Linked DNA regions of Homo sapiens: region 2 is linked to region 1. Evidence: fine-mapped expression QTL. A gene starts in region 1. The other region holds a variant in brackets. All regions are shown on one strand. Distances are between the middles of the regions.

Region 1 (2,898 bases):
GGCAGGAGAATCGCTTGAACCCAGGAGGCAGAGGTTGCAGTGAGCTGAGATCAAGCCACTGCACTCCAGCCTGGGCAACAGAACAAGACTCTGTCTCAAAGAAAAAAAAAAGAGTAAAAGGCAGGCATGCGTCCTGGAAACAGGTGCACACAGGACAAATGGCATGGAAGCAGAAAGGAGATAGGTACACAGGCCCCCAGCCCTCTCCTGCAACAGGAAACCAGTATAGACCCAGAGGACACAGTAGAGAGGAACCCACGGACATATACACATAGAGAGGTTCAGGTGCACACACCGAGAAAGTGCAGGCAGGTAGACAGCAAGAAGATAACTGCCCACAGAGAGGACGGGCACTGTCGCAAAAGGGACAGGTGAACACGCACAGAGGGATCTGGCTTGGTTACCCCCAGGGGCTCAGGTGGGCAGGGTGGGTCAGGAAGGCTTACCTCTCTGTTATTCCTCTCCAAAAATGCTACGGCTGTTGGGCTGACCATATGGTCCTTCATTTCCTGGAGGTAAGGACAGCATTAGGGAGGAAAGACACTCAGGCTGGGCGCGGTGGCTCACGCCTGTAATCCTAGCACTTTGAGAGACCAAGCCGGGTGGATCACCTGAGGTCAGGAGTTCGAGACCAGCCTGATCAACATGGTGAAACCCCGTCTCTACTAAAAACACAAAACTTAGCCGGGTATCGTGGCAGGCACCTGTAGTCCCAGCTACTCAGGAGACTGAGACACAAGAATCGCTTGAGCCTGGGAGGCGGAGGTTGCAGTGAGCCGAGATTGCAACACTGTACTCCAGCCTGGGCGACAGAGCGAGGCTCTGTCTCAAAAAAAAAAAAAAAAAAGAAAGAAAGAAAGAAAAAAAAACACACTCAAACCTTCCCCCACTCCCCGCCTGCAGGACCTTTCCTGACCTGGACTGCCTCTCGCATCCGCTCCACGAACACCTTTCTCTCCTGCAGGTCCCCGGCTGGGAGCTTGAACTTGCCTGGGTTGGCTTCCACTATACGTGGGCTGAGAGTCAAGGGTCAAGGCCGGAGCCAGATATCATCCCCGTCCCTAGGGGTCCAGCCCTACCCGAAGGTGGGCTGCCACCGCAATGGGCTCTCCCATGCCACCCTCTGCCACAAAGCCCCAGGATATCGATGGTCTCTTCCAGGTCCTCGAGGTCCCACTCGATGCTGCGCAGGCCATTCCGCAGCTCATTGGTCGTCCAGTCCAGCTCCTCGCGTCCGACCGCCGCGCTTTCCTGCAGGAGCTCGCACCAGCGCTGGTACAGCCCGCGGGCCGTGTTCACCGCCTTCTGCACCTCGCTGCGGGCAGGGGCACGGCGGGCGCGGCTGGGGGCAGGCGGTCCTCCCGCCTGCCTCTGCCCCCGACTGCAAACCCAAACGCATGGGGGACTCCGGAGACCCCTATATACCCCTGCGTGCGCCTCCCACTCTGCACCCCGACGGCCTTGCCCAGCCCGCCGGGCACGCTGGGGCCGGCACCCGGGCACTGGCTGGCTTGGGTACAGAGCACCCTCCGCCCTCCCCCGTCGTTGTCACTCACCCTCGGACTACAAAAAAGGGGTCTTCGAGAGACATGTCAGTCCCTTCCCCCCCAGGCCGAACCCCCCTCCCGGCCTGGGTTCGCGGGCTGGTTCCCTCCCAACCGAGGAGAACGCGCCGCCACCCCCGCCCCCGTCACGCCACCATCGAGAGCCGGACCGCCAGGGGAGAAAGAGAAGCCTCGGAGGCCCGACGTGCGGACACTTCCGCCCTCTCCTCAGCCATCTTGGTTGTGGGCAGAGGCAGCTTCCGGTGCACATGCCCCCGCCCCTTAGCCCTCTCGTGCCGCACCGTAGGGGGCGGTGTCGGAGTTCTGTCTGGGCCTATTCGGGTCCGAGTTCGGAATTTCGGTTCAAGGCCCAGTTCCTCGGATTGTTCCTGCGCAACTTCAGTTTCCCTTCCAGGCACGGGCAATGTAAATAATGATAGCCTCCCTCATCTCTGGCGGCTGGGTATTATGGCTGGGGAAGGGGCTCATTCGATTCGTTGAAGCTTTTCATGGACTCCCTGAGCTGGCACCTGGGAGATCGTCCCATCCCAGGGTCCCGAGTGTCAGGTTTGGCTAGGGTCTGGGGGAGAGGTGGTCCTCCCTTCTCCCTGCGGGGGCGCGGTGAGGAGCGGGCCTGCTCCTCCGGGGAGTTCTGCCGCATTCTCCCAATCTCTTTCCTGAGAAGTGGCGGAGTTGGGGGCACTTCGAGGTCGCCTTGGGGCGAGGTGGTCGTGAGGGGGTCCCAGATATGCCAGCAGCGGGGGGAGGTCACCTTTGAGAAAGTGCGTGGAGGTGGGTTTCTTCAGAAGCGCGGAGTCTTTCTGGGTGCGAGCCTGGGGGTAGCGGGTGGTGGCTTTGAGGATGGTCTCCAGGGGGGCCCTCTGTGTGTGGGGTCTCCGTCTGGGTAGGGGCCAGGAATATCAGCGGAGGGACTCAGGGTCGTCCCTATGTGTGACAGTGGCGCTGTGTGTTGGGGAGCTTCGGGAAAGCACTTTTTTTGAGTGATAGGGGGCCTGGTCTCCCCTGGAGGGTGGGCGGGTTATCTGAGGGAGTCCTCGGAGGGTCGCCCCCTTGCGCGTCAGAGTTGCTGCGTGGGGTCTCAGAGATAGCGCCTGGGCTGGGGAAATCATTGTGGGGTCTCCGTGGTAAGGTTAGCGGGGTGGGGACGGCCTGCGTCTTCGGCAGGTCGTCGCAGTCTGGCACCATCGTTGAATGGGGACGAGTTTGGGAAGGGTATTTTAGGGGGGAATAACTTTTGAGTTCCCAGCGTGCGGGGGAAGGGCGGGACGGGAGGGTGTCCCAAGGCCTGAGAAGATCAGTGTGGGGCAGGGGTCAGGAATAACCTGGGAGGGGG
Region 2 (2,898 bases), 65 kb after region 1:
TTTGCTGTTACCCAAACAACCCAGGCACGGTCCAGCCTCAGAGCCTTTGCACTGGCTGTTTCCTCTGCCTGGAACACCCTTCCAGGTATTGCTTAGCTCACTCCCTCTCCCCTTTTCCTTCAAGCCTTTGCTCACATGTCACTTTCTCAGGGAGGCTCCCCAACTACCCATTTCCCACCGCATCCCCTCCTCCCCTGGATACTCCTATCTTCTGGATTCTTCTCCACTTTCCCCCACGACACTTTCTTTCTCTTTGCTGGATGTTGCACGATTCAGTCATTTGCTACCATTGGCATTTCCCCACTTGGAATGTCTGCTCCCTGAGGGCAGGGATTCTGGCCTATTTTCCCCATGGGTGCATCCCCGAGGACTGAGAACAGCGCCCTGCACACAGTAATACTCAATAAGTGTTGGTGGAGCAGCTGAATGAAGAATGAATCCACATGATGTGTCCTTGGCAAGAACTTTTTTTTTTTTTTTTTTTTTTTTTTTTGAGATAGAGTCCTGCTCTTATCACCCGGGCTGGAGTGCAGTGGCTTGATCTTGGCTTGCTGCAACCTCCACCTCCCAGGTTCAAGTGATTCTCCTGCCTCAGCCTCCCAAGTAGCTGGGACCACAGGTGCATGGCGCCACATGCAGCTAATTTTATTTTTTTTTTGTAGAGATATGGGTCTTTCTATGTTGCCCAGACTGGTCTCCCACTCCTGGCCTCAAGTGATCCTCCCATCTTGGCCTCCTAAATAGCTGGGACTACAGGTGTGCACCACCATGCCTGGCTAATGTTTTATTTTGTAGAGATGGAGTCTCACTGTGTTGCCCAGGGTGGTCTCATCCTGGTCTCAAACGATCCCTCTGCCCTGGCCTCTCAAAGCACTGAGATTGCAGGTGTGAGCTGCTGTGCACAGCCCCTACTTTTCAGGGACCTGCCCTGGGGCTCAGCCACCCTCATATTCCAGTTGGTTCCCGTGGTGACATGCAAGCCACTGTCCCCAGCCCAGATGTCCCCAGAGCGGCGAACAGCGCACCTGCTCCTCGCGCATGGCCTGCAGCTTCTTGGCCTTGCTCTGCCGGTAGTACTCCATGATCATCATGGCTGCGTAGATCTTCCCCACGGTGAGGTCCGTGGCTGGGGGCACACACACGGTGAGCTCACCAAGGGCAGGCCTCTTTGGGGCCCTTGTCCTGGGTCCCTGTGTATACCAGCCCA[G/C]GCCAACACTCTCCCCAGGCCTCCCCTTTCCCTCCCCCTCCATCTGTCCTGGTGGATTGGATCCCAGGGCTGGGCTCAGCTCTTACACTTGTGAGGTGTGACCAGCAGGTCTAGCGTCTTCTGGGACAGATTGGGCCAAATCGCCATCATCTCCTTCCGCAGCTCAGCGTCCATCTGCTGTTTGTCGGCTCCTCCTGCAATGGGGGTGTAGACAGACCCTGACTGCCTGCCTGGGTGTCAGCTGGACTCTGGGTCAGCTGCAAAGCCATAGGCTCCCGAGAACGAGACCCCAATCTTTCTGGTCCCCATGGGGTCTCCAGTTCCCCAACGGCCTGGCCCAGAGGAGGCCCTGGGCAGTGCTGCTGGAATGACCTTGTGGGCTCTGGTTTTCGGTGGGGCCAGGACCATGGAGCAGCTGTGCAGGAGACAGCCCGGCATGGAGAACAGCTGGGCGACCTGGGTCCCAATCTTGTCTCCCAGTTATCGGCTGCATGACTTAGGTTACTCTACCACTTAGTAACTCAGTTTCTCCATCTGTGAAATGGAGATGATAGCAAGAGTACTTGCCTCACCTGGTTGTTGTGTGTGTGTGTGTGTGTTTTTTTTTTTTTTTTAGACAGAGTCTTGCTCTGTTGCCCAGGCTGGAGTGCAGTGGCACGAGCTTGGCTCACTGCAACCTCCGACTCCTGGGTTCAAGCAATTCTCCTGTCTCAGCTTCCCGAGTAGCTGGGATTACAGACATGCACCACCATGCCTGGCTAATTTTTTGTATTTTTAGTAGAGACGGAGTTTCACCATGTTGGTCAAGCTGGTCTCGAACTCCTAACCTCGGGTGATCCACACGCCTCGGCCTCCCAAAGTGCTGGGATTACAGGCGTAAGCCACCGCGCCTGGCTGGTTGTTTTTTTTTTGTTTTTTTTTTGAGATGGAGTTTCACTCTTGTTGCCCAGGCTGGAGTGCAATGGTGCAATCTCAGCTCACTGCAACCTCTGCCTCCTGGGTTCAAGCGATTCTCCTGCCTCAGCCTCCCGAGTAGCTGGGATTACAGGTGTGCACCACCACGCCCAACTAATTTTGTATTTTTAGTAGAGACGGGGTTTCACCATGTTGGCCAGGCTGGTCTCAAACTCCTGACCTCAGGTGATCCACCCTCCTCAGCCTCCCAAAGTGCTGGCGATTACATGCGTGAGCCACCGCGTCTGGCCTGTTTTTTTTTTTTTTTTGACAGAGTCTCTCTCTGTTCCCAGGCTGAAGTGCAGTCATGTGATCTCGACTCACTGTTACCTCCGCCTCCCAGGTTCAAGAGATTCTCCCGCTTCAGCTTCCTGAGTAGCTGGGACTACAGGCACGCACCACCATGCCTGGCTATCACCTGGTTGTTTGATGATCAAAGTAACGTGCGTGCAGCCTTGGGACAGTGTCTGCCATAGGATTATTACTGCAGTGACCCATCTGTTCAAGGCTGGGACGCCCTGGAGCATCCCCAACAGAGGAAGTTTTGGTTTTGGTTTTATTTTGATTTTTGAGACAGGGTTTTGCTCTGTCGCCCAGGCTAGAGTGCCGTGGCACAAACATAGCTCACTGCAGTCTCGACCTCCTGGGCTCAAGATCCTCCCACCTCAGCCTCCCAAAGTGCTGGAATTACAGATGAAAGCCACTGTGCGTGGCTCAGAGGAGGTCTTTTCCCCTTT

Evidence for each region. PIP is the estimated chance that this variant, and not a neighbour inherited with it, causes the effect. A credible set is the group of variants that fine-mapping cannot tell apart.
Region 2: its variant is the best candidate, but not a certain one, in a credible set for the expression of STX10 in subcutaneous fat (GTEx, PIP 0.58).

Annotation. Positions count from the first base shown.
Region 1 is chr19:13,148,583-13,151,480 of GRCh38, forward strand. STX10 (syntaxin 10) reads right to left here and starts at 1,793. Exons shown (of 8, transcript NM_003765.3): 1 at 1,557-1,793; 2 at 1,146-1,315; 3 at 917-1,011; 4 at 447-509. The coding sequence starts at 1,591. IER2 (immediate early response 2) reads left to right here and starts at 1,829. Exons shown (of 2, transcript NM_004907.3): 1 at 1,829-1,970. RefSeq lists silencers at 1,304-1,353, 1,394-1,553 and enhancers at 1,674-1,873, 1,894-1,963.
Region 2 is chr19:13,213,208-13,216,105 of GRCh38, forward strand. It overlaps CACNA1A (calcium voltage-gated channel subunit alpha1 A), which reads right to left. Exons shown (of 47, transcript NM_001127222.2): 39 at 1,294-1,401; 40 at 1,026-1,126. Among named protein-coding and RNA genes, the nearest start is that of IER2, 64 kb to the left of the region's middle. RefSeq lists a silencer at 2,394-2,594 and enhancers at 2,475-2,524, 2,645-2,898. The variant G/C (reference allele first, on the strand shown) is at 1,208.